Regions from separate parts of the Homo sapiens genome. Here regions 2 and 3 are each reported to be linked to region 1. The links are microRNA targets in miRTarBase. Many come from high-throughput screens and were not tested one by one. Region 1 holds a microRNA gene; each other region holds the end of a gene's coding sequence.

What was found. Region 1 holds the annotated microRNA hsa-miR-6727-3p (UCCUGCCACCUCCUCCGCAG, at 920-939, opposite strand). A microRNA usually pairs through its seed, bases 2 to 8, with sites in the 3' UTR of a target mRNA and lowers its output. Matches are read on the target gene's strand: a 7mer-m8 pairs with bases 2 to 8, a 7mer-A1 pairs with bases 2 to 7 and ends in A, and an 8mer does both.
Region 2: the mRNA of ARHGAP26 is a reported target of hsa-miR-6727-3p. The part of its 3' UTR that is shown has no 7-base or 8-base seed match.
Region 3: miRTarBase lists HNRNPA1L2 as a target of hsa-miR-6727-3p. Seed matches in the 3' UTR shown: 7mer-m8 at 619-625.

What each region holds. Positions count from the first base shown.
Region 1 is chr1:1,311,583-1,314,730 of GRCh38, forward strand. It overlaps MIR6727 (microRNA 6727), which reads right to left and starts at 984; the gene lies at 920-984. It overlaps INTS11 (integrator complex subunit 11), which reads right to left. Exons shown (of 17, transcript NM_017871.6): 8 at 2,719-2,783; 9 at 2,150-2,339; 10 at 1,927-2,010; 11 at 1,453-1,542; 12 at 1,205-1,367; 13 at 1,011-1,118; 14 at 858-919; 15 at 644-786; 16 at 436-565; 17 at 18-342. The coding sequence ends at 277. PUSL1 (pseudouridine synthase like 1) reads left to right here. Exons shown (of 8, transcript NM_153339.3): 8 at 1-95.
Region 2 is chr5:143,221,958-143,225,009 of GRCh38, reverse strand. It overlaps ARHGAP26 (Rho GTPase activating protein 26), which reads right to left. Exons shown (of 23, transcript NM_001135608.3): 23 at 1-2,652. The coding sequence ends at 2,564. Among named protein-coding and RNA genes, the nearest start is that of ARHGAP26-IT1, 31 kb to the right of the region's middle.
Region 3 is chr13:52,642,932-52,645,983 of GRCh38, forward strand. It overlaps HNRNPA1L2 (heterogeneous nuclear ribonucleoprotein A1 like 2), which reads left to right. Exons shown (of 1, transcript NM_001389320.1): 1 at 1-842. The coding sequence ends at 524. Among named protein-coding and RNA genes, the nearest start is that of HNRNPA1L2, 2.0 kb to the left of the region's middle.

The DNA.
Region 1 (3,148 bases):
AAGAGAGTACCAAGTAGTCTTTTGTTCAGCTTTTACTGGAAACTGCTGTCTAGGACCACCTGCCCTAACCAGGAATAAAGGCAAGACAGCCTGGAGACCAGTTTGTTTCTTCAGCTGCAAACAGCTGCCTGGGCAGGCAGGTGACACAAGGCCTCTGTCCCCAGGGATGGGACCTGCAGGGTCTGTTCACCCAGGGCACCCACAGTCCTGAAGTGCAGGCCCAGGGTCTGTCCAGCTGGGAGAGGGCAGAGGTGGCGGCTGGGTGAGTTGCCGGCCTCAGCTGGGGGCCTGGGGGAGGCCCTTCTTCAGCAGAGATGTGAGGAAGCTCCCCAGCTCCTCGTCCTAGGGCAGAGGCAAAAGCATTGTGGGTGGTGCAGGACAGGGAGGAATGTTGATACCTGTGTTGACCGCGGTGGGGTGGGGGTCACCCCTTACCTGGTAGGTCCAGGAGACCAGCAGCACCTTGGTGCCTGGGTCCTCAGAAGGGGCGGCGGCCTGGAGGAGGACGGACTCCACAGTCACAGAGCCGTCTGGGAGGTGCTGCACACAGTGGTCCTTCAGGACGCTGTGGGGAGGCTCGGTGAGACCCTGCCTGGCCTCCAGGGCCCAAGGGAGTGGGGGGGGGGCGGGGCCGGGCGCCCACCTCTTGAGGTGGCTGTAGACGCGCAATGCCGTCTCCTGCTCCTTGCGTGTGTCATGCAGGTGCACGCGGCAGGTGAAGCGCAGCTGGTGCTCAGCCAGACCCAGCTCTTTGAGGGCTTGCTCTGAGGACACCAGCCGGAAGTTCTGTGGGGCAGGGACAGGTCAGTGAGCGCAGCAGCGGCCCTCCCCCCTCCAGAGACCGTCCTGGCACTCACGCTGTCCTTCATGATCAGGGTGCCGTGCAGGAGCCGAGGCTTCTTGGCCTCAGGGAGCAGCCCTGCGGAGGAGGTGGCAGGAGCCATCAATGTGAGGGCCGCTCCCAGCCGCCTGCCCCGAGCACCCTGCCCTGCCCTGCCCAGCCCGCATACCCTGCGCCATCTCCCGCTTCAGCAGCCCCAGCGAGATGCCTACGGGGATGCTGGGGCTTGTGGGCAGCGTCACCGTCTCGCCATTGGCCGGCATGTAGCAGTTGACCCCTGGACCCCGGGGGAAGAGAGAGCCTCAGCCCAGGCTGCCCGTGCTGACCCGAGGTGGGCCCCACGCCGCCCGCCCGGCTGCCTACGGAGCTCCTGCTCGATCTTCTGCTTCAGGAACTCCATCTTCTTGGCCTCGCCATGCACCAGCAGCACGCTCTCCGGCTCTGCCTGGCCCACCAGCTGCATGATGCCCTTGGCGTCCGCGTGTGCGCTGAATGACATGTACTCCACCTGCATCTTGACCTCCAGCTACAGAGGCCACGGGGCGTGGACAGTGGTTACCACCAGGAGGTGCCCCTCGGCCCTGCCAGCCCAGTGCGGGGTCGAGACTCACCACCTGCCGCCCCTCCATCTCGAGCTTCCGCTGCCCGCTGAGGATCTTGTGGCCGACGGTGCCCTGCACGCAGTAGCCGGGCATGATGACCTGGGGGCAGGCACAGAGCTCACAGCCAGGGAACTCCAGCCTTGGCACCTCAAGGCCTTGCCCGGGATGCCCCCGCCTGAACCCCTGGAAGCTGTTTCCACCTGCCAGCGGCGCCCGACCAAGCCTAGCTGCAGACTCCAAAGGGCTCAGGTTTTGGCACAAGACTGTCCAGGGCTGGGCTGGGGCTGTTCTGCCCGAGGTGGACAAGCTGTGTCACAGAGACTGAGCAGCTCCAGGCGGACATCGCCCCCGTTCCCCAGCAGCAGCAGCCACGTCCCTTGGCCAGCACGAGGCCAAGCCAGTGAGAGCTCAGAGACAGCATGGGTGGAAGGACAACCCGTCGGCCTCCAGCTTCCAGATTCCCACACCTCACCATGCCCTCACCATGTTCTTTTCGTTTCCGGCCCATTTCCGGAAGATCTGCAGGGACTGCCCAGCGTGCAGCATTCCTGGCGTGGCAAACACAACCTACAGGACACACAGGGCCAGGTGGGGGGTCAGGGCAGCAGATGCCCCCACCCCCACTGCAGGCCCAAGCCCAGACACCTGCGGAAGACAGGAGACCGACGGGTGTGGATGTGCTGGCCGGCCCTGCCGCGGGCCTCACCATCGGTCCTGGGTTGTCAGCAAAAGCCCGGTCGAAGGCCTTGATGTGCTTGAACTCAAACATGTTCCTCTGCACGAAAGTCTTGCGGATCTTCTGGTTGGTCCAGGGGATGAACAGCTTGTAGTAGTGGTTGGCCTTCTCGGTCAGCCCCGTGGAGAAGTAGATGGGCACCTTCAGGTTCATGCGCTCCCTGGGGACCACCGGCCCAGTCAGCACAGTGGCCACAGGGGAGAATGCTGCAGGGCAGGACTCGGCCGGGTCACCCCCAACACCCGTGTCTGCACAGCCCACGCACGGGCCAGGTTGAGTCCAGTCGCGACCACTTGTCCCATTAAGCCCTGCAGCAGCCGGGCTCAGCGGAGAACCAGGAACCCCTACAAGAGCCGCACACGGTGGCGCTGACGGGATGTCACAGGCTTCCTGGGGTCACACAGCACACGAGCGGCCCCCCAGGACAGCAGCAAGCAGGGCCAAGATGCCACCGCTACGCTGGACAGGGCTGCCCACCAACTGGACTGTGTTCAGGCCGGGCCAGGGGCTCCTTAAAGAGCCGTCCTGGCGGCACCTACCAGAAGGTCTCCAGGAGGATGCAGAGCTCCTGGGCGCGGCCCAGCGCGAACACAGGTATCAGCACCTGAGGGGGACACAAGGCAGGAGCCCTGGGCACATGGCCCCTCGACACAGCAGGCAGCGTCCAGTGAGGGCACGGCCAGGTGCCCAAGAGCTGCGGCCTCATAGGGACCTTAGCCTCTCATCTGCTCCCAGTCCCGTCCCAGCCGCTCTCCAGAGACAGAAGGGAGCCGTATGAGAGACAGGAGGGAGCCGCATGAGAGACAGAAGGGAGCTGCATGAGAGACAGAAGGAGCCTGGCCAGGGCTTCGTCCGCACCTGAGGTAGGAGGGAAAAGGGGCTCCCTAGGAAAGGGTCTCTGAGTTTTCCTCCTCAATGTTGAGCAAATCTTCTTCCCTCCCTGCCTGAAAATGCAGTACCCCCCACCCT
Region 2 (3,052 bases), not on the chromosome of region 1:
TTTCTTGAGTTCTGTCTTGGTCCTGTCCATTCTTAATTCTCATTCCCTGATTCAATGGTAGTGTCTCGCTTGCTCCTGGGTGAGTTCCCGGAAAAGAGCTGTATAATCCTTGAGCTGATAAACTGAGTAGTGAATCACCATGACAAACCCCTGTTAACTTTAAAACCACCTGTAAAGCTATGACGGCACAATCTATACCCCTCCTGGAGTCTTCCTCTTCTTTTGGGATCACGGGAATTGGAGGTGAAAGGGAAGAGTTTTAAAATGTTTAGGAGAAGGGAAAGCAGCAGCACATTGAGAACTGAACATTCTAAGAAGCTGGTTCTTTAAGAACTTACAGACGCACACAAAATTTGAAAACTAGCTTGTCCACATTTCTAAAGCCTCAGAAGATGTGGAGAAAAAGAAGTAAAGAGCACAGCAACTGACTCATCTCTTTCTGGCCTGATATCTTGGGGGTACCAAGAAATACACCTGAGAAGAAAGACAAAAACTCGAATGCCTGACCCCACTTATTTAAATCCTGAGCTTCATCTTACTACTAAGTAGGCATTCTTTGAAAAACTCATTGCCTGGAGATGCTCTTCCCATCTCCAAATCCAAAGCCCAAGGGATGCTTAAAAACACATAAAGACTGAACACCACTGATGTGTCGTGCCCACCAACAGGACAGCAGAGAGCAAGGCCATAGAAATGTCTTCTCTTTCCTTCAGGCCGAAGCGGGGACAGTGACCTTGACTCTCTTCAGCTTTGCCTCCCCTCTCTCCCTCTTAAACATACTTCTTCAGCAATCAAAGCCTAAGTGTGTGAGCAACTAACTTAAAGAATATCAAATATAAAACTTTGCCATATAGTATTTCAAATCACTCTATTTACAAGTTTATCTTTTCAAAAAAAAAAAAGTAAAAGATACAGTAATTCAACACAATTCAAGTTTTTCTTTTCTTCTTTAAAGTTCCCTAACAAGGAATTCCAGAAACAGGAAACACTCTGAAGCAACGCTGCCATCCAAGGGGCTCCTGGGGAGCTTGACGGTCCATCGGTTTGTAGTTTGTCTAGAGTCACCCTTGCAATGACATTCACATGTGGAAGATACGGATAACTCTGTTGTTTGCAGGCCAAGTGAATTTGAAATCTCCAGGTAGTACTTCCCCATCCAAGACAGTCTTCCACAAGATCCAGCCTCTTTTCACCAGCAAATTCCCTTTTTCAGAGGGTACTCATCCCACCCTCCAACCTTGGGTTTCTTCCTGAATCACAATGGCCTATATTAGTCTCAAGCCTTGAAAGACTGAGAAATAATTCCCTTTTTCAGAGTGGCAGTGAACATAGATGTGCTTTTAAACTATAGGCCATACGGTTAGCCTAGGAATTAACCTTGAAAACCACCACAGCACCAGTGTTCAGCAGCCCAGAGTAGGGCAAGGGGGCTGGCCAGTGGTGGGTTAGAGGCAGGCAAGGGTGGGAGCAGAGATGGGTGAATGGGAGGACATGGGGAAACCAGTCAGATGGCATCACCCATTGGGAGGCAGCATCTTACCCTTTAAAAAACAAACATCAGTTGCATGGAGGAACAGAAATATTAAGACTATGTAATTTAATCTCAAGAGGTTACTAGGGTGTGCTCCAAATATATTCCGATGCTGCTGAAATTAATCAGAAAGGGAACAGTTCCCAGCTACTATCCCATCTGCCTCAAGTAGACCACCCTAATTCCTTGATCCTGTGCTTCAAGTTGTTAGAAAACCATTCAAAAAAAGTGTACCAAAAAGGGGAGAAAAAAAATGTGTCATGCAAAGAGGATGTGTTATTTTATTTTTTTGGTTTGGTTTTAGAGTAGGTTGGGTTGCCGTGGTTACTAGGCGATGGATGGCAGCCCTTGGTGGCAGAGAGGTTCCTAGCCTGGGAGGGAGAAACGCAGGGTGTGTGTGTTCCCGTGCATGAGAAGACTGGATTGTATCTCACTGATGACAGGCCAACGGCTGCTTTAGAGATGGTGAGAGATTGGATCTTATATAAACAGTGTTTTAACCCTCTTCATCCTGCATGCAAACAGATCCAGCTGCCTGTAGCACTTTAAGTCTCAAGTACTGAGAGGTGGGGTAGAGAGAGTGCCTATTGTAAACAAAAGCAATGGATCCAGCCTGGATCTCAGCGCCAATTTCTTCACCCAGCCCCAGCAGGCTTAGCTACACAGTGTGCTCTCAGGGACTATTTCTATCTGACTTCCTCTTTCTGAAGGTTGGGCGTTTGGACCGTTGAAACAAAATGAGTGCCCCCTATTCAGGGTACTCATGAGAAAACGGCTTTGCAAGTCTTCCTCTTAGTTATCAAATGCTCTCCTCTGCTGATTGACTTCTTTTCTTGCAGTACTGATGCATGTTGGCTGAGATGATCATGGAGATGAGTGACACCAGAGCTCACAGAAACATTCATGTTGACAGGTAGCAACAGAGTCAGTCACGCTGCATTTCTCAGTGGCAAAGAGAAATGGCCTCGACACTGGAATCAGCAGTTGTCATGGATACCATGTAAAGCTCAGCAGTTCTGCTGGGGCCCACGGTTAGAGGAACTCCACGTAATTCTCAGGGATGAGGCCAGTCTTTCCGTTCAGAGTCCCCTCCAACCAGCCAGGCTCCTGAGATGGGTGAACTGTACAGGAAGGGGAGAGAAAGCGAGAAGAGATGGCATTACAGATAGAGCAGGCGGCAGATGTGTGTGTGGGGTGTGTGTGTGTGTGTGTGTGTGTGTGTGTGTGTGTGTATGAAGGAAGCTTGGACAATGAGTACAATCACTTATTAAGTTACATCATTCTAGAAGTTTAAACCAAAGGTTCTGAACCTTTTGTGGAATATAAGCCTTCTGATGAAAGCTGTCCTGAACTTTCTTTACAATGAAAAAGGAAACAGACACAGACATACAAAATTTTGTGTACAATTTTAGGGGTTTCACGGATTTTCTGAAGCTCCTGGTTTAAACTACAAAGAAGTGACAGATTCCTACTCTTGTTAGAGGGCAACAGTTGTCCTGGTCCATCCATACATGTATCCAT
Region 3 (3,052 bases), not on the chromosome of region 1:
GCTTTGCCTTTGTAACCTTTGACGACCATGACTCCGTGGATAAGATTGTCATTCAGAAATACCATACTGTGAAGGGCCACAACTGTGAAGTTAGAAAAGCCCTGCCAAAGCAAGAGATGGCTAGTGCTTCATCCAGCCAAAGAGGTCGAAGGGGTTCTGGAAACTTTGGTGGTGGTCGTGGAGATGGTTTCGGTGGGAATGACAACTTTGGTCGTGGAGGAAACTTCAGTGGTCGTGGTGGCTTTGGTGGCAGCTGTGGTGGTGGTGGATATGGTGGCAGTGGGGATGGCTATAATGGATTTGGTAATGATGGAAGCAATTTTGGAGGTGGTGGAAGCTACAATGATTTTGGCAATTACAACAATCAGTCTTCAAATTTTGGACCCATGAAGGGAGGAAATTTTGGAGGCAGAAGCTCTGGCCCCTATGGCGGTGGAGGCCAATACTTTGCAAAACCACAAAACCAAGGTGGCTATGGCGTTTCCAGCAGCAGCAGTAGCTATGGCAGTGGCAGAAGATTTTAATTAGGAAACAAAGCTTAGCAGGAGAGGAGAGCCAGAGAAGTGACAGGGAAGCTACAGGTTACAACAGATTTGTGAACTCAGCCAAGCACAGTGGTGGCAGGGCCTAGCTGCTACAAAGAAGACATGTTTTAGACAAATACTCATGTGTATGGGCAAAAAACTCGAGGACTGTATTTGTGACTAATTGTATAACAGGTTATTTTAGTTTCTGTTCTGTGGAAAGTGTAAAGCATTCCAACAAAGTGTTTTAATGTAGATTTTTTTTTTTGCACCCATGCTGTTGATTGCTAAATGTAATAGTCTGATTGTGACGCTGAATAAATGTCTCTAAAAAAAAAAAAGATCTTTGGTGGAATCCGTAGGCTGCTTTTTCATCTGGTGGCTGTGGCTCTCTGGTGTTTTGTCCTCAACAGCCACATCTAATATGAGCACTGGGAAGAAGACTCTTTCTAAGGCTGCTCAGCTTTAGAGTACATTTCTTGATGGTGTGAGCTTGGTGTCCTGTCTCAGAGTCACTAGTTTCCCAGCCCGAAACAGTTGTGTCTCAATGCCCTCCATCCTGCCTTTTCCACCCGGCCAATTACACACCATTCTAGGTCTGTTTTGTAGCACTCCACTTCCAAATACCAAATTGTCTATCAGTTTGGATTCTTAGTCGTAAGCAACAGAGATGGATTCTGGTTTTCAGCATAAGATAAATTGTATTAGAAGAATATTGTGCTGCTTGCAGAATGGCCAAAAGGACTAGAGAATCAGCATCAGTCTGAGCCACACGGCTGGGAATAAATCCTGGAACCATACTGCATAACTGGTCGGGTGAGGAGATTGTAGCCACTGTTGCCAAGCACTGACACACTGCTTTGTAACACTATCTGCTGCTTTGGGAATTTGATCTTGACACATGTGCTACTGCATCTGGAGAGGATACACTAAGGTCCTTCCTTGATTTGTTGTTGCTAACCAGTTACCAATTTTAAAGTATGTGCAAGTTCAGCTTAAGTTGTTTGGCATTTTCAGCTTTTATAGAGGGAGACTGGCTCAGTGGGAAGACTCAAGGAATTCCCCAGACATAAGAAGGAGCTGAATTCTAAGTAACCCAAAAGAAAGACCTACTTAAGGACAAATCCAGGTTTTGTGGGGCCAAAATTTACACAATTTGTTGGGGTTGTGGGAGTGGGGAGGGGATTTATTTAGGAAAAATACGTACAAAATTATATTAACAAATTAGATAGGGTTTGAAGGGGCTTTTGCAAATAAACACCCCTGAAGCTGTACTTTCCAAATCACTCCGCTAGATCTGATTTCAAGCCCACTCTGCTCAGCACAGGTTATCTCATGCTGGTTACCTCCTATATGTTCTTCAGGCTTTGGCTGAGACATTACTTACTCTGAGCTTTCAAAATCTTCTGACTGCTTTCACAGAACCCCTTTAATCTCTCCCATTTAGACATATATGACACTATAATAACTGCCTGTTGATATGCGTGATTCCAACACTAGATTATTAAGCACCAAGATTGCAGTCATTTTAGTATCCCCAGTCCCTCGCATATCTATACATAGGAGGGATTCAATATTTATTAAGTGAGAAAACTACATATTCTCCTTGCCTTTTTTTTCTTTCTTTTTTGAGACAGGGTCTCGCTCTGTTGCCCAGGTTGGAGTGCAGTGGCATGATAACAGCTCACTGAACCTCGACCTGGGCTCAAGCAATCCTCCCACCTCAGCCTCAGTACACTCAGTGGACTACAGGCATGCACCACCACATCTGGCTAATGTATTTTGTAGAGAAAGTGTTTTACCATATTGCCCAGGCTGGTCTCGAGCTCCTGGGCTCAAGGGATGCTCCTGCTTTGGCATCCCAAAGTGATGGGATTACAAGTGTGAGCTACTGCGCCTGGCCTCCTTGTGCTCATGTTCTTATGTTGCTTACCACCATCCATATGCTGATGACTATCAATTCTTATCTATAGCTCTAAATGTGTTTTAAAAAAATAGCTTTAGGCCGGGCGCGGTGGCTCACGTCTGTAATCCCAGCACTTTGGGAGGCCAAGGCGGGCGGATCATGAGGTCAGGAGATCGAGACCATCCTGGTTAACAAGGTGAAACCCCATCTCTACTAAAAATACAAAAAATTAGCTGGGTGTGGTGGCGGGTGCCTATAGTCCCAGCTACTCAGGAGGCTGAGGCAGGAGAATGGTGTGAACCCGGGAGGCAGAGCTTACAGTGAGCCGAGATCACGCCATTGTACTCCAGCCTGGGCAACAGAGCAAGACTCCATCTCAAAAAATAAAATAAAATAAAATAGCTTTATAGGGCTATAGTTGACATAAAGCAAACCATGCACATTATTTAAAGTGTACAGTTTGAAGTGTTACATATGTATACACTCGTAAAATCATCACCATAATCAAGATAGTGAACATACCTATTACCCCAATGTTTCCTCATGCCCCTTTTATTCTTGAAATTCCACCCTGCTCTCCAGCCCCCACCCCCACCCAGTAAACCACTGATTGTCATACAGA